4 linked regions of the Homo sapiens genome follow. The protein of the gene in region 3 purifies or fractionates together with the protein of the main gene of each other region. This does not show direct contact. Each region holds a gene or a part of one and is shown on either strand. Other genes may lie near its edges. The genes, in order: TM9SF2, SCYL3, SYAP1 and ATAD1.

Region 1 (5,616 bases), on a different chromosome or scaffold from region 3:
AGCCCAGCTGCCCAAACCCTTACTTCCCTATTCTCTCCTGTAGCTTCCTGTCACCATGGTCTCTCAGTAAGTTTTGTAGTTAATTTTAGCTGCTTTACATGTATCCAACAATTTCATTCTATTTTCATTAAAATTAACTATCTATGAAAGGCTTTGGAGGAAATTTGTGAATTTTTTCTCTTTTTGCTCCTCTTCTCACTTTTCAAACCTGTTTATTGCCCTTTGCTAATAATAATGGTAAAGACTACGATTTGTGTGTGTTGTATATGCCTTAGCTAAATTTCATAACATCTCTGTGATATTTAGATGAGGAAACAGAAGCTCAATAAGATTTAGTAGCTGTCTCAAGTGTACAAAGCTAGTAAGTATTAAAGCCAGAATGCAAACAAGCCCAAGACTGAGTCCAAAAAGCCTAGGCTCTTCGCCACTGCCTTCTACTCTGAGCACTCTTCTTCTTGTTTGCCTTTCCCCTGGGGATCCCTGACCGCTTATCACCCTGGACTTTGACAGTTCCAGAAAACACTCTGTATCTATTATATGTAATTTTCATTTTATTTTATTTTTTAGAAACAGTCTTGCTCTGTCACCCAGGCTAGAGTGCAGTGGTGCAGTCATAACTCATTGCAGCTTTGATGTGTCTGTGTAATTTTTAAGTAGTCAGGTTTTATATTTACTTCTTTCGTTGATATAGTCTAAAATTGAAATTGTATTTTTCAGGGCTTTGGGGAAAGAACCCTGGTAATTATCTAGGAGATCAGTTGCTGGGCATTGCTGATCGGATAACTCAGAGCTCATAAATAAGCATTTGTGAGTCCCAGCATTGCTTTTGAGACTTTTATTGTGCCTGAGTTAAGACTTCCCTTCTTCAGGAAGGCGCCACTGTGGACTGCTCTAATATTAAGGAGTTGAAGCTTCCATAGATTTCCTTTTTTATGGCCTCCATATCTCAAACCCTTTTGTGACTTGTCATTTGCCATGACCCTTGTACAGTCACATCTCTTCACTGAAATTTCTTTCTCCCTTGAAAATCCAGTTGTAAGTGTGGGGTGGGACAGATGTGATGATAGCAGAATAAGGTGGGAATAAAAGCAGAAACGAACTAGGAAATGGGAAAAAGTGTAGTCCTGTGGCATGGCCCGTGTGCCTTGTTAAAACAAAAAAATAGACTAGTTGTGACCATAGCTGGGATCAGGTATGGAACTGGCAGATTAGGACTAGAAATAAAATTGTACATTTAGGAGAGAAATTTAAAAGGAAGACTGTAGAGTTCTAAATAAAACCACTTCTATAAAACATTTCATAGTACAGGATTGTAATCAGTCTTGCTTTCTCTAAGTGACATAGGATTCTGCAACTTCCTTAAAATGTTTCATGTTGTCAAAATTTTGCATGCTTGAAATAACCTAGGTGGGGACAGTTTGAAAGTGGGAATGTGAAGCAAGTAAACCTTGAAGTTCTTTCTAGTCACATCAGTGATAATCTAGAGTCATCTGTCTCTATTTAAGGCAAATTTCTGGGAGGAGATGGACTTAACTCTTTTGGATGGTGAATAAAGATGTTTAGAGTGGGAAAAAAAAGGCAAACAAAACACACACACACACACACACACACACACACACACACACACCCCAGAGATTCAGTAGCTACTCCAAGAACATATAAATAAGTGCTGTCATTTTTTTTTTAATATATGCTGTATTAGGCTGTTCTTGTGTTGCTGTAAAGAAATACCTGAGACTGGGTAATTTATAAAGAAAAGATGTTTAATTGGCCCACAGTTCTGCAGGCTGTACAAGCATGGCACGGACATCGCTCGACTTCTAGTGGGAACCTCAGGAAATTTTTACTCATGGCAGAAGGTGAAGCAGGAGCAGGCATGTCACATGGTAAAAGCAGGAGTGAAAGAGTTTTCTGTTGAGCGAGATGCCACACTTTACAACAAGCAGATCTCACAAGGACTCACTCACCATCATGAGGGCAGCACCAAGGGAGTGGTGCCAACCCATTCATTAGACATCTACCCCCATGATCTAGTCACCTCCCACCAGGCCCTACCTCCAGCATTAGGGATTACAGCTTGACATAAGATTTGAGTGGGGAAAAATACTCAAATCTCATGTCCTTCTTATATTGCAAAATACAATCATGCCTTCCTAATAGTCTCCCAAAATCTTAACTGACTGCAGCATTAATTCAAAAGTCCCAAGCCCAAGTCTCATTTGAGACAAGGAAAGTCCCTTCTACCTATGAGCCTGTAAAATAAAAAAGCAAAAACAAGTTACTTACTTCCAAGACACAAAGGGGCTATAGGCATTGGGTAAATATTCCCAGGCCTTGGGCAGCTCCACCATTGTAGCTTTACAAGGTTCAACCCCCACAGCTGTTCTCACAGGTTGTTCAGTGCCTGTAGCTTTTCCAGGCACAGGGTGTAAGCTGCCAATGAATCTACTATTCTGGAGTCTGGAGGACAATGTCCCCCTTCTCACAGCTCCACTAGGCAGTACCCTGGCGGGGACTCTGAATGGGGCTCCAACACCACATTTCCCCTCCACACTGCCCTACTAAAGGTGCTTTGTGGGGGCTCCATCCCTGCAGCAGGCTTCTACCTGGGCACCCAGGTTTTCTCATCCTCTGAAATCTAGGCAGAGGCTGCCAAGCATTCTTCGCTCTTGAACTCTGTGTGCCTGCAGGCTTAACACCACATGGAAGCCACCAAGACTTACGGCTTGCATTCTGTAAATGGCAGCCCAAGCTGTACCTCAGCCTCTTTGAGCCATGGCTGGAGCTGGAGTGGCCTGAATGCTGGGATCCCAAGGCTGCACAGGGCAGTGGGGCCCTGGGTCTGACCTATAAACCCATTCAGTCCTCCTGGGCCTCTGGGCCTGTGGTGGGAGGGGCTGCTGCAAAGGTCTCTGAAATACCTTTGAAGCCTTTTCCCCGTAGTCTTGGATATTAGCACTTGGCTCCCTTTTAGTTATGCAGATATCTGTAGCATGCGGTTGCCCCACAGCCTGCTTGAATTTCTCTCCAGAAAAAACTTTTTTTTTCTTTGCCACATGGTTAGGCTGCAAATTTTCTGAATGTTTGTGCTCTGCTTCCTGTTTAAATATAAATTCCAGCTTTAAATCATTTATTTGACCCTTCAGCTAAGATAGGCTGTTAGAAGCAGCCAGGTTACCTCTTGAATACTTTGCTGCTTAAAAATTTCTTCTACCATATATACTAGGTTGTCACTCTTTAGTGCAGAGTTCCACAGATCCCTAGGGCATGAATAGAATGCAAGTCAAGCTCTTTGCTGAGACGTAACACGTGTGACCTTTGCACAAGTTCCCAGTAACCTTCTCATTTCCATCTCAGACCTCAGCAGCCTGACTTTACTGTCCATATCACTATCAATGTTTTGGTCACAACCATTTAAACAGTCTCTTAAGAAGTTCCAAACTTTGCCTCATCTTCCTATCTTCTTCTGAGCCCTCCAAACTCTGCCTGTTTCCCAGTTCCAAAACCAGTTCCACATTTTCAGGTATCTTTATAACAACACCCCATCCTCGGCACCAATTTTCTTTGTTAGGCTCTTCTTGCATTGCTATAAAGAAATACCTGAGACTGGGTAATTTATAAAGAAAAGAGGTTTAATTGGCTCACGATTCTGCAGGCTGTACAAGCATGCACCGACATCACTCTGCTTCTGGGGAGGCCTCAGGAAGCTTTTACTCATGGCAGGAGATGAAGCAGGAGCAGGCGTGTCATATGGTTACACAGGAGCAAGAGAGAGTGGGGGCAGGTGCCACACTTTACAAACAACCAGATCTCACAAGAACTCATTATCAGGAGGACAGCACCAAGAGAGATGGTGCTAAACCATTCATTAGAAATTCACCCTCATGATCCAGTCACCTCCCAGCAAGCTCCACCTCCAACACTGGAGAATACAATTTGACATGAGATTTAGACAAGGACATATATTCAAACACATGCGTTGTGTTTCCATCTGGATTATAAATTCTTTGAAGGCAAGTGTTCATGAATTTGTATTATTTTGTCATCCAAAATGTCTAGTATAGGACTTTGTGGGCATTAAATACATGTATTGGCTGATTGAGTTTCTCGTGGTCTTCAGGATCTGTTGTTGTAAATGTTCTTTGGTTTTCAAATATATTGCAAATTCTACTATTTTTTTCCTATTTAATAAATTGGCTTCTCCTGAGATCATCGTTCCTGCTCCTGGAACACTTTTCCACCCTAAATTTTACTTTTTAAATCTTTCTTATTGTTTTTGTTTGCCTTCTGTTGCTTTACAGTGAGACTAAGGTCTACTCTCAACTTCAAAGCCCTTTTTCTGGCTTTTAATTGTGACAGTTTTCAAAATTCAAAAAGTTGAAAGAGTAGTGTAATGATCACCTTTCACTCACCTAGACCACCTAGAATCAACAGTTGTTTACATTTTTTCATACTTGTCTTATTTGTGTGTATTTATGTTTTATAGGGGTGAATGTCATGACATCTGTGGCATACTTTCACATGGTTCAGCTTGAAGCTCTTTATTGAACTATATAAACTCCCCGGCAGTCTCATTTCCTTTCTTCCAATTTTTAACAATTGTTCCACTGACATATTAGGAGGATCTCATTCTTATGACACTTTTGAAATTTCTTTGTCTTGCTGCAAGAGTTGATATTTAGAGTTATTGCAAATGTAGCATATTTACAAATATATTGTAAATGGCTGTATTCTATATTCTGTGTTAAGGTTGACTTTAATTTTAATTGACTTCACATTCCTCAGCATGTGTGAGATGGTAATTCTTGAAATTTCAGATCCTCACAATTTAGAAAAGGAAGAATAAAAGTGCTGTGAAAGCTAAGATGAACTGAATATTCAAGCTGTGTTTGATTACTTTGCTGAACATCAAAAATAGGTCCATAATTTAGTGTTGATATCTATGATAGACTTTCTTACAAAAGTAGTGTGGAAAGGTGTCAGAAGAGACAAGAAGGAAGAAAAGTAGAGGAATAAAAGCATCAGAAATAAAAAGTTACGGTAGCAACAGTTGAGTTTACCTACTTTGTTTCTGCAGTCCAGCTTTTTAACTTGTTTCCTCGTGTTAAAGAAGCAAGGAATCCCTAGTTCATGAGGCTACTATCAGAATTGTGCGTGATAGTTATTATCTTCCTTTTCCCTAGACTAGTGGCCAGGACAAGTATAATGGATAGGCATTAATAAGGTTCAGAAGGCTGACTGTCTTAGTGTCCTTTAAAAACACTGGAATAGCCTAGTTGCACTACTTGGATGGATGGGAGACGAGAGGAAGGAAGAGCCTTTCACAGAAACCCTTATGCTGATAAACCTTTATTCAGACTCAGGAATGGCAGTTTCTTTAAGATAATAGATTACAGCTGCTATGTTTATTATTTGTTATAGTTATTGTGTGCCAATTATGGACCAGCTTCTGCGTGTACTGTTTTCTATTTTATTATGATATCATTCAGTTCCCACATTCAAAATTATTACTTGCCCAAGAGCACTTAATAAAAGTAGACCTAGGATTTGAAGTGAACCCAGCATTCTGATGATACATTCTTTCTAAGGAGAATTGGAAGCTGCTTCATCAGATCA
Region 2 (5,616 bases), on a different chromosome or scaffold from region 3:
TGTATTGTAAATTGAGAGGGGAGAGGAAAACTGAAAACACACAAACCGTACCTGCCAAAATCCCACTGTTAATGTGGGGAGAAACCCCAGTTAAGAGACAACAGTAGGAGCCAGGGTCAGCATCTCTTACAGAGGCAGCTGAACCAATTTGATTGATTAGATTTAAGTTTAGACATCTTTGCTGCTGAACCAGGGGGAAGCCTAAAGTAGGTATAAACATAAGATGTGAAGATCCAAGTGGTATCTCTGCTTACTGGGCCTCCCAATAGGCTGTCCAGCTTGTATGCCGGAGCATCTGGGGTCAACAGTCTCATATACAGTAGGGTGTGAGCTGAGCAGTGCACAGCCTTTGGAATTCTCTGGCAGCCCTGTAGGAAACCGACCACTCCTCTCACACTAATCCCTGCCTGGCTGAAAGAATGACCAAGTAACTTACAGCAGGAGAAATGAGAAGATTGCTGTATGGAAATTCCACTTTCCACAATCTCTTTAATAGTTTTTATTTCATCAAAGGAGACTTGAGAGTCAGCAATATTTTGTAATGGTAATGTCATTTCTCCCAGGATACTTCATTTAACATCCTATTACAACCAACAGTTTGGAGGATTTTTCTGACTAAACCATAAAGCATGTTAGCATATGTGTGTTTAAACTTGTATCCTCGTCACAGATCTCTTTGCTATTAAAATATTAGATTTCAGAGGCGTGTTCCATAGTATTTGTCTCATAAGCTACTTAGTTGTAATAGAATCTTTAAATGGCAAAGGAGAATGTTTCTTGGTTGAAAATTATATTGATGTAGTCTGTGATTATGACCTCAATATTTAACATTCTCTAATCTGTTCTGCTGAATTCCTTCTCTTTTTGGCATTTAGAAATGATTTTCTGGAAGTTGTGAATTTCTTGAAAAGTTTAACATTGAAGAGTGAAGAGGAGAAAACGGAATTCTTTAAGTAAGTTCAGAAAATTAAGAATTTAAATTGAATAACTTGGATTAAGTCCATATAATCACTTTAGGTATTCTAGAGAAGATGAGTCATATATTTGGTTTATTTCACATTTATTGAACATTTCCTATGTGTCAGGCTTTCTGCTAGGCCCTGGTGGGGTAGATATTTCTGGTGAAAGAAATAGATACCCAGACTGATAATCCTTAAACAGAGAGGTGGGTACAGTAGAGCTTTTGGAAGGAGTCCTGAGAACACACAGGGCAGGAGGAGGTCGTTAGAGAAAAGGTATTCTAGGCAGAGGGGCAACATGAACAAATGCACAAAGACAAGACCTAGTGTGACTTGTGCAGGAACCGCAAACAGTTGAGTCCTGCTGGGGGACAAATTCCAAGACAAGGACAGGTAGGAGGTACACCTTGCATGTGGCAGTGAGGAGTGCTGATGTTATTTGTAAATAGGGGACTTCAGGCATTGAAGCCATCAAAGAGATGGAAGCAGGCTGTGAAACAGATTAATGTCCCTTTAGGTGGATCACTTTGTTCTCTATTGAGTGGGAAGGCTTAACTCATTTAAGATTTGGATTGGTTAGTGACTATGGTAGTCCAGGCAGTAAATATGAAGCCACACATAAGGGCATTAATGTCTCCAATGAAGAAGACACTAAGATAAACATTTAAAAAGATAAAGCTGAGAAGCCTTAGTGATTATCACCAAATGAAATAGAGAATATTGGAGGAGAGGACCTAATATGCAGGGAAAATTATGACTTCAGTGTTGGATATGTTGGTTTGAAGTATCTGTTGGACTTTAGATAGAGATATACATGGACCGTTGAACAGACAGGTCTGAAGCTTCAGAGAAGTCTTAAGCTGATGAGCTAGAGGGAAATATTAGGGTGTTATCAGCCTATAGTTGGTGATATTTTCACAGAGAAAGTGGGTAGCATGAAAAGGACAGTGAGCCCAAATTGTAATCCTGGGGCACCCGACCTTATAAGGGGGCTGGTGGGAAGGAGTGGCTGATGAATGAGAAGCAGGGGTTAGAGGAGACTCAGAGAGCTAGGAAGGCTATGATATTCCCAAAGGAGTAGGGAATTTCACGAAGGTAGGAGGAACGAACAGGTACCTGTTCATTTAGTAGTTAGGAAGACACTGGTAACTTTATCTTAGCAAGAGCTGTTCCAGCAGTGAGAGTGCATTGGGCTGAGAAGTGAACAGAAGGTGAGAAAGACACTGGAGAAAAACTTGGAGAGAAAATATTACTGAAGAAGCAAATGGGGTCAAGGAAGGATTTTGTAAGGGTGGAAGAGACCTGAGCATATTAATAGACGAGGGAAAGGAGCTAGCAGAAGAATGGAGGGAGCAGTTGAAGCTGCAATCAAGTTGGGGAGATGGTTGGTGCATTGTCCTGGAAGAGAGGGGAATGCTGGGGCAGTGGCTGGATGGGGGTGGCCTTAAGTAAGAGGAGGCCCTCGGATCCTTAATAACTAGAAGGGAGGTGGGAATGAGTATCAATGTAAACCTGTTTGCTGATAGCGGTGTAGGGGTTTGAAGGTGATAATGCATGTGACCTGTTTCCTAATAAAGTAGGAGGCAAGGATATCTGCTAAGGGTGATTGTATAATGGAGTAATATTACCATTAATACCTAATATCTGTATTTCTTAACAAAGTGCCTTTATATATGTTGTTTTAATTTATGGGGATAGTGACAAAAGCCTATGTTTTGTTAGTTATGGAAGCTTTCTACATTGTTTAAATTTGAGAAAGTGTCTTTTATTATCTACAAAGCCTGTCTTCTTAGGGTAAAAAGGAGGGCACTTTGACTATTAGTAAGGGGATAATTTGGTGGAAACATTTCCTGGTGTGAATTGGAGGTGTGCTGACTAGCTGGCTTTGCTCACACTTTCTGTATTTTTTTTTTTTTTTTTGAGACAGAATCTCACCCTGTCACCCAGGCTGGAGTGCAGTGACATGATCTCAGCTCACTGCAACCTCTGCCTCCCAGCTTCAAGCGATTGAACCTCAGCCTCCCATGCCTCAGCCCCGAGTAGCTGGGATTACAGGCGTCTGCCACCACGCCCGGCTAATTTTTGTACTTTTAGTAGAGATGGGGTTTCACCATGTTGGCCAAGCTGGTCTCAAACTCCTGACCTCAAGTGATCTGCCCGCCGCGGCCGCCCAAAGTGCTGGGATTACAGGTGTGAGCCACTGCACCCAGCCACGCATTTTTCTTAAGTACTTGGGGACCAATCTGTTCACCTTCTCTATCTCCATTTCAAATGCATCACTTTGATAGAAGTGAGAGAGAGGATGTGTGTAGGCTAAACTGTACAAGTAAGCTGATACAGTGTCATGACCAGTTTCCTGGGCTTTCCCTTTTTGTCCTCAGATTTCTGCTGGACAGAGTCAGCTGCTTGTCAGAGGAATTGATAGCTTCAAGGTTGGTGCCTCTTCTGCTTAATCAGTTGGTGTTTGCAGAGCCAGTGGCTGTTAAGAGTTTTCTTCCTTATCTGCTTGGCCCCAAAAAAGGTGAATGCTTTTTCAAAGTGTTATTGCTAGTTAAGAAGTTTGGTGATTATTAGTCCATATTTGAGCAGGATGAGATTACTGTGTGGTGTAGTTAATGTTTGGTTCTAAAAACGGAGAACAATTGTTGGCCCCTGATGTGATAACTTTAATTCAAACCTGGGTACCAGAGTTCACAGGATAAATGAAGCATCTTCCTAGAGAGTCCAATTTACTATAGTAAGTGTTATATCTGACTAGAATCTGAAATATACATTTGAAGTTTTAAGGTAAGGCATGCATCTTCAAAGAACTTTTACATTTATCATGAATCATTTAGGCCTGTGCCTCCTACCTTACCAAGAGCAACCCATTTATTTTCTATTTTCAGTGAAAAGCACTGAGATCATTTTACTTCCTGGGGCTTCAAGTTTTTTTTACGAATGTGAAATGAGGTTATTGCTTTGGAATTTTACAATTTTATAGCACTAGAGATGGTAACAACAGATGAGAGAATATAGTATTAATATGACACTAGAATTTTAAGTTACGTAGAATCCTGCTTTCAGAATTTATTTTCTTAAAGGGATCTCAGTCCAACAAAGCATTGTTACAGTTTAGAATTTCCTTATATCTCTACTTTGATACCATTCTCTTTAGCCATGAATTTTTCTTTATAGCTCTTACATCCTATTCCTCAGTAGGTCTTACATAGGGGTGTGCCTCTGAATCACCTATGTTGCTTTTTGAAAATTTGCCTCTTTGCTTGATCCATTGGTTCTAGAACAGAGAGCCAGGACATAGGTATACATATTTTTTAAAAGTTCCCAAATAATTCTCAATACATACCTGCCTGATAACCACTACCATAAATACTGGAAAAAGAGGAGTATCCAGCATCAAAGTCCCACTGTAGCATTTAACACCTGGTTTTGCAAATAAAACTACAACAATATCAGTATGTCACAAATCTAGTGTATGAAATTCCTCACTGATTAAACATAAATTTATAAAAAGTTACTCAGAATTCTGTTAAAATACAAGCTTTGTTGTACACTATGATCTCTAGTATTTCAAAAACTCTACAAGGTAAGTGTACTTAACATAATTAAGCGTTAAGTAATTTTCGGTCAAGAAAAGAACTTTGCTTTGGTTTGGAGCATTAGAATTTAGAAGAATACTGGCCGGGCGCGGTGGCTCACGCCTGTAATCCCAGCACTTTGGGACACCGAGGCAGGTGGATCACTAGGTCAGAAGTTTGAGACCAGCCTGGCCAACATGGTGAAACCCCATCTCTACTAAAAATACAAAAATTAGCCGGGCATGGTGGCGGGTGCCTGTAATCCCAGCTACTCGGGAGGCTGAGGCAGGAGAATTGCTTGAACCTGGGAGGAGGAGGTTGCAGTGAGCCGAGATCGCGCCACTGCACTCCAGCATGGGTGACAGAGTGAGACTCCATCTCAAAAAGAAAAAAAGAATTTAGAAGAGTACTTAGAATATGTGTAGTTTTGGGTTCAGTGTATGAATTATGCTTAATACTTTTCACTGAAATGAAAATTTGTTTTTTCATCTGTAACCTTTGATTTTTCGGGTAGATCATGCGCAGGGAGAAACTCCTTGCTTGCTCTCACCAGCCCTGTTCCAGTCACGGGTGATCCCCGTGCTTCTCCAGTTGTTTGAAGTTCATGAAGAGCATGTGCGGATGGTGCTGCTGTCTCACATCGAGGCCTACGTGGAGCACTTCACTCAGGAGCAGCTGAAGAAAGTCATCTTGCCACAGGTCAGAGGCCAAGTTTGCAGTGGGGTAGTCACAGAACCTGAGGGAAGAGTGCTGAAAGAAAGAGTTTTGGAGGTATTCAGATAATAGCTTAGAAAGCCTTCAGGCAGCAGTCTGTGGAATACAAAGTGCTGAAATTAAAATTGCATTTCCATTCCATTCACACAGGCAAATTGATTAAACTGACATATTTGGTCTTAACCTGGGAGAAACTATAATTGTTTGTTAATTTTGGGAGGGTAAATGAATAACAATAATGTATGGAGCACTTTGTGAACATAACATATAATTATCCATAATTATTATAAAGTAATTAAATTAGAACAGAGAGGAGCATGAGATGATTCTTATCAGTGGCTTTCAGCCTGTTGTTATCAGCCACT
Region 3 (5,616 bases):
ACCATGATTTGTCTTCTAATAAAAATAGGAAACTAGAGAGAGAAAAATTTTGTTTCAAAAACTATAGTATACCTGTTGTTAAATTCTATGCCTGATGTTTTTCAGTTTTTATTTTTTTCCACAGTTTGGATTAAATTCTAATTTTTCTGGCCACAGGTCTTCAAAATAATGTTTTCAATTTTTCCTTTTCCTTTTCCTTTTTCCCCATTTTTCCTATTTGGAAATCACTGAAACCTAAGCTGTGCTTTCTTAAAGCCCTGTGAACTGAAGACTAGACAACTTAAACTTCAGAAGAAAACAGCAGTAACCTATTTATATGTGTTGCTGTTACATACTATTATGTTTCAGCAGGTGCTGCCTCTAAGCCTCTGAAACAGAGAGTGCTACCGGGAACAAGTTGACCTCTTCTACTTCAGTGCTGCATTCAGTGCCCCATAATGATGAGCCCCTCTAAGCAAAAAGTAGCCAGAAAGATTATGATGCCCCATCTCCCTACGATTCTCATGATAAATAAATATACAAGCATGATAGAAATCATGCGCAAATTGACAGTGGGGATTGCGGCAGGCCAGGACTCACTAACATAGGCTTCCATCACAACTGTTTCAGTACTGACTGAGTGGTTAAGTTAAATATTAAAAGCCAGTGACCTTATACAAAGGCTGGGATGTAACAAAAGCCCAAGAGTTTTGCCTAGGACTTTCCTGAACCTTAAAGCACGATTAAGTAAGTTTTACTGGGGGGTCTGAAGAGACTCCCCAGGCCTCCACAAACAAGTTGATTGGGGGTCTGAAGGAACTCCCCAAACCTCCATGATTTAGCAGGAGACAAGATAAGGGTAATCACCTCAGCACCTGGACCCAGTTAGATTAAGTAAATTTACTGAGGCTCCAGAGGAAGGTCTTCAGGACTCAGACCTTAGTTATAGATTAAAAGAAGTTAATCACTTATGTCTTTAGATGAGTGCACACTTAACACGTAGACGTATAGCTTAGAAGGTATATAAGCTCTGGAAAACTTTCTAATTTTGCGTTGGTCTGGTGATAATTTCCAGGCCTTCTCCCTGGAGCCACTTACAGAAATAAAAACTCTCTTCCTTCCCAGTTGACCTGCATCTTGTTATTGGGCCACGAGAAATAGCAGCCTGACCCTCAGTTTGGTCCAGGAACAAAACCATGCTTTGCAGTCAGAGAAACAAATCTAAAGTTCCAAAAGAAGAGGGTTCTTTTGGAAATAAATTCCTTTTATCCCTTCCTCAGAAACATATTTTGAATTCAAACAATGATTTTTATTCCAAGGGAGAACTGTCATTTAAAAACTGGTATTTTAGCATAATCATTGCATTCCTTAGATTTTAATGACTCCATGGATGGAGTTTACTGAACACACTGAATATCTGAGAAAGCACAAGTTCTTGCCCTCCAGGAACGTCCATCTCTAAAGCAAAACAAATAAATAGAGAATCAAAGACAAAAAGAGGAACAAGATTATTCATTAAGCAGATGTGGCAGCATGGAGGGAGAACTGTCTCCAGAGAGTTATTAGAGTGGCCTGGGAGTGAGATGGAGAGCATGACAAGAGATTTTCAGGGAAGAAGTCCATAAAGACAAGAAGTGATTTATTAATTTTGCAAAGAGATCAGCTGACACCACGTTGAAGACAGTTTTTATTTTGATTTTTATTTTTTATAGAGATGGAGTCTCACTATGTTGTCCAGGCTGGTCTCAAACTCCTGGGCTCAAGCAACCCACCCGCCTTGGCCTCCCAAAGTTTTGGGATGACAACTGTAAGCCACCGCACCTGGCCAAAGACAGTTTTTATGAACTGTCTAGGAAAAAACTGAAACTAAGATAGGAGTTAACAGGAAGTAACAGGAGTACAATGTCCACTTCAGTCCATAAAGTGAGGGTCTGAAACGAAGTAGCGCCAAAGAAAAGGAAGTCAAATTCAAATGTATCTGAATACGACTTAGCGACCTGCTGGAAGGTGGGGGCCGACAGCTAACATTTAAAGTAGTTATTTTACCTTCATTTTAATTATGCCATGTTTTATTCTCATAACCTTCCTGGGACAAGGAGAAGGAATAATCTGCCCAGTTCAAAAAAAGGGAAGCTGAGGCTCACAGAGGAAAAATGATTTGTCCTATGTGATAGGGGCAGATCTTGCTGGCTGCCCAGCCAGTAGCCCATCTCTTCTGCCTTGTTAAAACCACCCCAATTTTGATGCGTGCCCATGTGGCCAGCCCCAGAGAATGAATCTTGACAAGTCCACACCAAAGAAGGTAATGGCACTACCTCTGTCAGGATCTCTGCCACATACTTGCTGAGAGTCCCGTGAAGCTTAGAAAAGCCATGTGACAGCTCCACCCCAAGAAATTTAAGGGGACACCTGCAAGTCGGCATCCAGAAACATTTTCTTTCTTAATAAAAAGGGAGCTATGGGGAGAGTCCTCGTCCTCCCTTTCTACTGCAGTTGCTGTCTTGTGAGCCTGAAGTGATCAGCCTGAGGATGGAAACCAACTCACTATGGATGAAGGAGAGGAAGCGTGGAAGAGATTGGTTCCCTGATCATATCGTTGAGCCATGGAACTGACCCTGGGACCTCCCTCCCATCCCCACATTTCTTGGAGACTCTGCAGAAAAGCATTAACATGGCAGGCCTGAGACTGCTGTCCTTGGAAAGGCTTGCTTTCAAGGTTGGCCACTGGCTGGGTGTCCGGGAACTTAGATTTCGGGAGGGCTCCCACCATTTCTTAAACTGCTAAGAATGCCTCATTGTGGTTTATGCTGAACTCCCGCTTTCCTTGTGGGGTCTGGAATTTGGATATGTGGTAGGCAGAGGATACCTATACGACCAGTCCCCAGTAAAAGTCCTGGGCACTGAGTCTCTAATGAGCTTCCCTGGAAGACAGCATCTCACACGTGTTGTCACAACTCCTTGCTAGAGGAATTAAGCACGTCCTGTGTGACTCTACTGTGCCTGCTTACCCCTGGACTTCCACCCCATGTGCCTTTTTCCTTTCCTGATTTTATTCTTGTACTCTTTCATTGCAATACATCACGGCCATGAATACAACTATATGCTGAGTCCCATAAGTCTTCCTAGCCAATCATCAAACCTGGGGATGGTTCTTGGGGACTCCCTGACACAAAAATAAAGTTTCTTTCATTAAGCCTCTGATCACTGGACTTTCTGTAATTTGCAAATGATATAACAATAAAGACAGTAAGTAGTGTAGGGAACTCAAACACAGGCTATCTGCCTCTAAATCCCAAGCTCATGCTCCAATCCCACGCTGCCTCAGGTCAGTTGAGCAAGTTGACAAGGGCTTGAAGAACTGAAAGGAATGGTAAGAATAAAGTAAAGTAGGAAGAGCTTCAAAGGTCAGAAAAAACATAAATTTGTTAAAGTAAACACAGAGCAAGGTAGAGTTTAAGGCCTGCCGCAAGAATAGGAAGAGAATAAGCATACAGTGGCAAAGTCTTAGGAAATTAATATTCTTATAAAGTAGTTGGTTAATTTTTCAAAGATACTATATTTCATACAATTTTAGAATTTCAGCATCTTAGTGTGGGAATGGACCTTCCTATCCAGGTAGCCCCACTTCCAGGGGTAGGGAGCACAGGACTTAGAAGGGCAGCCAGTAATTACTGTTACTCAACTCTAATCAGAAAATTCTTCTCACTTCTCTAGTCATTTCTACCCCACAGCCTCAGGTCTATCCTCATAAGGAACATCTACGACTTCTTTTCTGCAAAAGACCTTTCAGATTTTCTGCAATGTCCCTAAGTTTCTTCTTCAAATCGAGATCCCCAATTTTAAAAAGTATTGTTCATAAGCCCTAGGATCCAAGCTATTGACTGTGCATTGTAAACCTGGGTGTGTTATCAGAACTCAATTAGATATTTTACTCCCACATCAAAGCAGGTACATAGTCACCTCTGTACACTCTAACTTTAGGAGTCCTCTTAGTTTGCAAGTTAGGCAGCTGGAACTTGAAATATACTTTCCCTACAGAAGAAAAGGAGGACAGTCTAACACAGGTCCACTGCAATACTAATAGCACTTTTCAAAGGAGGAGGAGGTGGCCCTTTCCCCATTCCTAGGCATGGAATAGTTTTAGGGGCGGTTTAGAAAAAGCTAAAGATCACAAAGCTCATCTTTGGCCATCCTCCCACTGATGTAAACTGTGTGACTGATTCAGATATTTAACATTCTCAGAAGTACAGATTTTCTTTTTATTTATTTATTTTTTTCAGAAAGAGTAGAGGCAAAGCTTTAATTTGGTTGACTTTAACAAAAACCAACTAACCAACTTAACGGCATGGGGCCTTGAGGGAGGTAGGGAGGAGCTCTTAAGTGAGTTCTCCTATAAATTGTTCCTTCCTTTGGAGACAGTGACAATCGGAGGTTGTAAATTTATCAGGAGGGAGGGCCAAGAATCAGGAGACCAGGAGGTTTGGTTTTGAGTGAGGGAGTGGAATGCAGGCCTGGGTGTCCACCACTAACTGGTGAGTTGCCTGAATGTATAAATAGGTCACCAGGAACCAGGAAGTATTTAGTGTCCAGTCTTGAAGGTAGGCACTCAACAAATATATGCAGAACAAATGGGGCTCCCAGGAGATTTTTTTTTTTTTTTTTGTGAGATGCAGTCTCACTTTGTCACCTACACTGGAGTGCAGTGGCGCGATCTCGGCTCACTGCAACCTCCGCCTCCCGGGTTCAAGCGATTCTCCCGCCTCAGCCTCTTGAGTAGCTGGGATTATAGGCGCGCACCACCACGCCCAGCTAATTTTTGTATTTTTAGTAGGGACAGGGTTTCACCACGTTGGTCAGGCTGGTCTCGATCTCCTGACCTCGTGATCTGCCTGCCTTGGCCTCCCAAAGCTGCTGGGATTATAGGCGTGAGCCACCGCACCCGGCTGATATTTTATGTAGATTTCAAAAGACTTAAGAAATGAATCTACTCTGGGAGTCAGGCTCACAGATGTTTAATTCCAGTTTTCAAAACATAAATGGGTCTTCTTAAAGACAATATACTTCTTAGGATCAATATGTAGAAATAAAAAATATCTGATCATCTCTCTTGTCTCTCACAGTTTGTATATGAACTAGAACCTTTACGACTTTCTAAAATCACATAAATTTCAGAAAAGAAAGAATTCTCATTTATTCTGAAGCTTTAAATTCACAATGTGTGTGTGTTTGTGGGTACTTCCATCTAACCTCAGCTTCCGTAAATATCAAAAGAGAATCTGGTGAGCAGAAAGATGGCAGCATTAGCTCCAAAGTACACATCCATATGAAAAATGCAGTTATTAGAAAATATTCAGAGGGGCCAGGCACGGTGGCTCACGCCTGTAATCCCACCACTTTGAGGCCAAGGTGGGTGAATCACTTGAGATCAGGAGTTTGAGACCAGCCTGACCAACATGGTGAAACACTGTCTCCATTAAAAATACAAAAAAAAAAAAAATTAGCCAGGTGTGGCAGCGTGTGCCTGTAGTCCCAGCTACTCAGGAGGCTGAGGCAGGAGAATTGCTTGAACCCAGGAGGTGGAGGTTGCAATGAGCCGAGATCGTGCCATTGCACTCCAGCCTGGGCGACAGAGCAAGA
Region 4 (5,616 bases), on a different chromosome or scaffold from region 3:
TAAAACGTTGATTGCCAAGGCCACAGCCAAAGAAGCAGGCTGTCGATTTATTAACCTTCAGCCTTCGACACTGACCGATAAGTGGTATGGAGAATCTCAGAAATTGGCTGCTGCTGTCTTCTCCCTTGCCATAAAGCTACAACCATCCATCATCTTTATAGATGAAATAGGTATGCTATGTTTTCTATATGAGTATTTTTAAAGGCCATTTTTAGAGATATTTAGATAACCAGATTTAGTTTTTAACATTTATTAGGCCATGTTAATAAAACAAAGAACATAACCAACATCATAATATGCTATGTATAATTTCTGTGTTGTAGAATGAACCATAGACTATATACTCCCCTACTTGATAGATAGGTTTTTCTGTCTTTTCTCTGTTACAAACAGTATGCAGTAGATATCCATGTACATGTTTTCTCATGTATATATGTTTGCCCGGGAAAGATACCTAGAAGTTGAATCATTTGGTTGTGTGATATATCTATCTTCAACCTCACTAGGATTACCAGTTCTTTAGTTATTATACCTATTTATGTTTTCCTGCTTGGTAGTAAACTTGGGCATCTTTTAGCATGTTGATTAGCCATTTGGGTTTTCTTATTTGTGAATTGTCAATATTTCTTTGGAGTTATTTGTAGTTTTCTTTTGTTGATGTTTATTATGATTACACCTATTTTCTAGTCTATCTTTTTTCTGATAGTTTTTTTTTTACAGTTTATTATTTGGCTATAGTCAGTATTTTTCCTTTGTGGTTTATACGTTTTGTATCTGGTTTACAAATACCTTCACTATCCCCATAAATGTTCTCTTTTTAAAAATTATATATAACATGAGATAGGAATCTAATTTCATTCTTTTCCAAAAAGACAGCAAACTAGACTATCCTTTGCTGTATGTCATGACTTTTATATTAATGGACTCTTGCTATATTATGGATCAATATTTTTGTTCTGTTCCTGGTACGATGTATATATAAATATATATAGTTATACTAATACAGTATTATTAGTATTGGATATATATTTATATAGCTTTATTACTGTAGTTTTGAATTATATTTTATTATTGTTAAATTTAGTATGATAGGCTATGTAAATATGTAGAGAGAAAAATAGATACAAATATGTAGTATAGCTTTGTTTTGGTTACTTGTTTGCTTTATGTATCTTTTCTCATCAATTTACTCCAGTTATTTTGGTGTTTTGGTGTGCATCTTGAACAGAGGAATATATAGCTAGTTTATTTTGTTTTTGTTTTTTTTTAAGACAGCATCTCACTCTGTTACCCAGGCTGGAATGCAGTGGCGTGATCATGGCTCACTGCAGCCTCAACCTCCCCAGGCTCAAGTGAACCTTCCACCTCAGCCTCCTGAGTAGCTGGGACCACAGGTGTGTGCTACCACACACCACTAATTTTTGTAGAGTCAGGGTTTCTCCATGTTGCCCAGGATGGTCTAAAACTCTTGGGGCCAAGCAATCTGCCCTGCCTTGGCCTCCCAAAGCATTGCGATTACAGGTGTGTCCACCACACCTGGCCTATTAGCTATATTGTCTAAAAATTTTAATCTAAGCTTCTCTTTAACTGGGAAGTGTGATTAGTTTGATTTTGTTATGATAGCTGAGATAATTCAGATTTCTTTTTTTTTTTTTCACGCTCTGTCATGGCTGGATTGCAGTGGCACAACCATGACTCACTGCAACCTTGACCTCCCCGGCTCAAGCGATCCTCCTGCCTCAACCTTTCAAGTAGCTGAGAATACAGGCGTGTACCACCATGCCCTGCTAATGTTTTAATTTTTTTGTAGAGACGAAGTCTCACTATGTTGCCTAGGTTGGTCCCCAACTCCTGGGGTCCAATGATCCTCCTGCCTCAGCCTCCTAAAGTGCTGGGATTATAACGCCTAGCTGATTTACTTCTGCTATATTATTTTTTGCTTTTAATTTACCAGTCTAGTAGACTTTTTTGCTTTATTCCCTTTTTCTTGCTACAGGTTTAGAAGTTATACGTTCTTTTACTTTAGTGAAACGTTTAGAATATCAACTTAAAAGTCAAGGGTAATCTCTACCTTCCTTCCAAATAATTCACAGAGAACTTAGAACTCTTAGGTAATAATAATATCTCATCTCTTACATGTTATTGTTAAACATTTTATTTTTCTTCTACCTTCGATATTAATTGCTATTTTATACTGGCATTGCTTGTTTAGTGCCACGTTTGCTAGGTTTTTTGCTCACCATTGCTTGTTTGATCTTGTCTTTTCTGGATTTAACTTTGTTTTTACTGAAGTCTTTCAAAGTTCTTTCAGCAAAGGTTGTACAAAGAGTAGATTCTTCCTGTGTGTGAACATGTGTTAATTCTACTTTCTCTCTTAAATGATACAGAATCACATTCAGCGTCTTAAAGCTACAATTCCACTGCATTCTAATCTTTTTAATCTTGTTGCTTTTGAGAATTCTCCTTATTGCCCTATATTTGTAAGTAATCTATCCTTTCTCTCTAGTTGCTGTTAGATTTTCATGTCATTCTGCTATTTAAGTATGGTTTTTTTCTAGGTCTGCATTTATTTTCATTTAGCCTGCTAAGCCACTTATCTGAGGATGTGTGACTTTCATTAATTCTGGAGGATTTCTCAGCCATTGTATATATTTGCATGTTGCAATGTTCCCATTAAAAAAAAAAACAATTCTCAGGCCAGGTGTGGTGGCTCACATCTGTAATCCCAGCACTTGGAGAGGCCAAGGCAGGAGGTTTCCTTGAGTCCAATAATTTGAGACCAGCCTGGACAACATGTAAGACCCCATATCTACAAAAAAAAATACAAAAATTAGCCGGGTGTGGTAACGCATGCCTCTAGTCCCAGCTACTTGGGAGGCTGAGGTGAGAGGATCACTTGAGCCCAGGAGATTGAGGATATTCAGTGAGCATAGGTCATGCCACTGCACTGCAGCCTGGGCAACAGAGCAAGACCCCATCTTCAAAAAAAAAATTCTTCATCTCTTCCATTTTGAGTCATTTCTACAGTTTGTCATTTAGTTCTGTACAGTATTTCATCAATTCTAAGACATACTGTTTTGTTTTTTACATTTTAACATCTTCGAAATTAGGATAGCATGTTACAATTGAGTTGGCAGCATTTTAAGTTTCTTGTTGGTACACAAAATAATGGTACAACTTAAAAATAATTCAATTTTTGAGTAGATTATAAAGGCAATTCTTTCCTTGGCTATATTTAATCTTTCAACTATTGGGTTTGTTTTTTGTTGATTATATTTGAACTTTAGAAGTTCTGTTTGGTTCTTTATAAAATGTTTCCCTTTTTTTACTGTAGCTTGTTATTTTAGAATTTCAATCCCTTTTATATCTTTAGAATTTTAAACATACTATTTTTGTGTAGTTTTTGAATTGCTCTTTTCTGAAATTCTAATTTTACTTTATGTTGACTTTTTTTTAATAGTGGTTTGTTTCCTTGTGTCATTTGTAACATTAGATGGCTTTAGGCTTGCTTTTATATGAGAATTCTTTTTTGCCTAAGAAGATCCAGAGTACTTTTTCTGTCCTCAGCTTAGAACTTCAGGGGTCTGATCGTTCAAAACCAATTTTAGATAATTTCTCAGTTTGTGTGTTCCCAGACTGAATGGTGGTACAAATTTAGACTTCATACCTGAAAGAGACTCCCCATGGTCCTAGTTTTTTGTGTAAGGAGGACATTTTTACCCCTCAGAGCCCAGGCAAAGATGGACAAGTTTCCTTGTACAGTGACGAGCAAAATTTTTTTTCTTGTCTACACTTTCTGTGAGTGTTAATCCTTCCAAGCATCTTGGCTTCAGCCTGTATGTAGATGTTAACAACAAAGCAGAACCTTTTGATGCTGTATATGTCTATATGCATACCTGCTGTGTATACAAACACAACAGACGGTAGCATAATCACATCAAGGTTTTCCAACTCTTATGTTCAGTTCCACTTTTTTCTGAACTCTGGGATTTTTTTTCTTTGTTTCTTGCAACCTCATATCTTCATTAACCTTTTCTAAAATACATTAATAGTCTTTATTTTTAATAATGGTTTTAAGTTTGCAGAATTGAGCAGAAATCATATAGAGAGTTCCCATATGCCCCCCAGATATATAGTTTCTCCTAGTATTAATACTAGCATGAGACATTTAATAATGAACCAGTATTGATACATTGTTATTAACCAAAGTCCATAGTTTAAGGTTCATTCTTTGTGTTGCACAGTTCTTTGGGCTTTGACAAAGCATAATGTTTTTTATTTATCATTACAGTCTCATACACAATAGTATCAAATATTTGTCCTTCCCTTTTCCTCCCAAACTGCTAGCATCCGCTGATCTTTTTTTACTGTCTCTATAGTTTTACCTTTTCTGTAATGTTACAGTTGGAGTCATACATTATGTAATCTTTTCAGACTGGCTTCTTTCCCTTAGCAATATGCATTTAAGTTTCCTCCACATCTTTTCATGATTTGATAGCTTATTTTTATTGCTAAATAATATTCTATTATGTAGATGTACCACAGTTAGTTTTTCCATTCGTCTATTAAAATGACACCTTGTTTTGGGCAATTAGGAGTAATGCTGCTGACAGCATCATGTGTAGGTTTTCCTGTGGACACAGGTTGCATCTCAACTGGGTGAAATACCTAAGAGTACCACAGCTTGATCACATGGTAAAACAGTGTTTAGTTTTGTAAGACACTAGCAAACTGTCTTCCAAAGTGGCTGTACCATTTTGCATTTCCACCAGCAATAACTGAGGTTCCTATTGGTATACATCTTCTCTAGCATTTGGTTTTATTAATTTTGGGGATTTTTAGCTATTGTAATAGATATATAGGTATCTAATAGTTTCCCATTTTTAAAATTTGCATTTTCGTAATGACATGATGTGGAACATTGTTTCATGTGCTTATTTGTCATCTGTGTATCTTTGTTGAGGTGTCTGTTCAAATGTTTTTCCCATTTTGAAACAATTGTAATATTTTTTATTGTTTGATTTTTTAATTTTTTATTGATACATAATAATTGTACATATGTATGAGGCACCTATGCAATGAGCAAATCAGGCTAATTGGAATATCCATCACCTCAAAGATTTATCATTTATTTGTGTTGGGAACAACAATTAGGTTATTATCTTATTGTTGAACTTTAAGAGTTCTTTTTATATTTTGGGTACAAGTCCTTTACCAGGTATGTGTTTGCAAATATTTTTTGCCAGTCTGTGGCTTGTCATTTCATTTCCTTAGCAGTATCTTTCACATAGCACGAATTTTATTTTATTTATTTTGTTTTATTTTATTTTATATATTTTTTGAGACAGAGTTTCACTCTTGTTGCCCAGGCTGGAGTGCAGTGGCACGACCTCAGCTCTCTGCAACCTCTGTCTCCTGGATTCAAGTGATTCTCCTGCCTCAGCCTCCCAAGTAGCTGGGATTATAGGCATTCGCCACCATGCCCAGCCAATTTTGTATTTTTAGTAGAGATGAGGTTTCACCATGTTGGTCAGGCTGGTCTCTCAAACTCCTGACCTCAAGTGATCCACCCACCTCGGCCTCCCAAAGTGCCACCATGCCCAGCCAGGAATTTTA

The links.
Region 1: the proteins of SYAP1 (region 3) and TM9SF2 purify together in Homo sapiens (affinity purification with mass spectrometry; one large-scale study listed by BioGRID and IntAct). This does not show direct contact.
Region 2: the proteins of SYAP1 (region 3) and SCYL3 purify together in Homo sapiens (affinity purification with mass spectrometry; one large-scale study listed by BioGRID and IntAct). This does not show direct contact.
Region 4: the proteins of SYAP1 (region 3) and ATAD1 purify together in Homo sapiens (affinity purification with mass spectrometry; one large-scale study listed by BioGRID and IntAct). This does not show direct contact.

Annotation. Positions count from the first base shown.
Region 1 is NC_000013.11:99,506,818-99,512,433, forward strand, and holds part of TM9SF2 (transmembrane 9 superfamily member 2 precursor), read left to right. Parts: intron 1-5,616. UniProt on the Homo sapiens protein: In the intracellular compartments, may function as a channel or small molecule transporter.
Region 2 is NC_000001.11:169,862,233-169,867,848, reverse strand, and holds part of SCYL3 (protein-associating with the carboxyl-terminal domain of ezrin), read left to right. Parts: intron 1-875; coding exon 876-953; intron 954-3,340; coding exon 3,341-3,480; intron 3,481-5,051; coding exon 5,052-5,236; intron 5,237-5,616. UniProt on the Homo sapiens protein: May play a role in regulating cell adhesion/migration complexes in migrating cells.
Region 3 is NC_000023.11:16,721,555-16,727,170, reverse strand, and holds part of SYAP1 (synapse-associated protein 1), read right to left. Parts: intron 1-5,616.
Region 4 is NC_000010.11:87,779,024-87,784,639, reverse strand, and holds part of ATAD1 (outer mitochondrial transmembrane helix translocase), read left to right. Parts: coding exon 1-170; intron 171-5,616. UniProt on the Homo sapiens protein: Outer mitochondrial translocase required to remove mislocalized tail-anchored transmembrane proteins on mitochondria.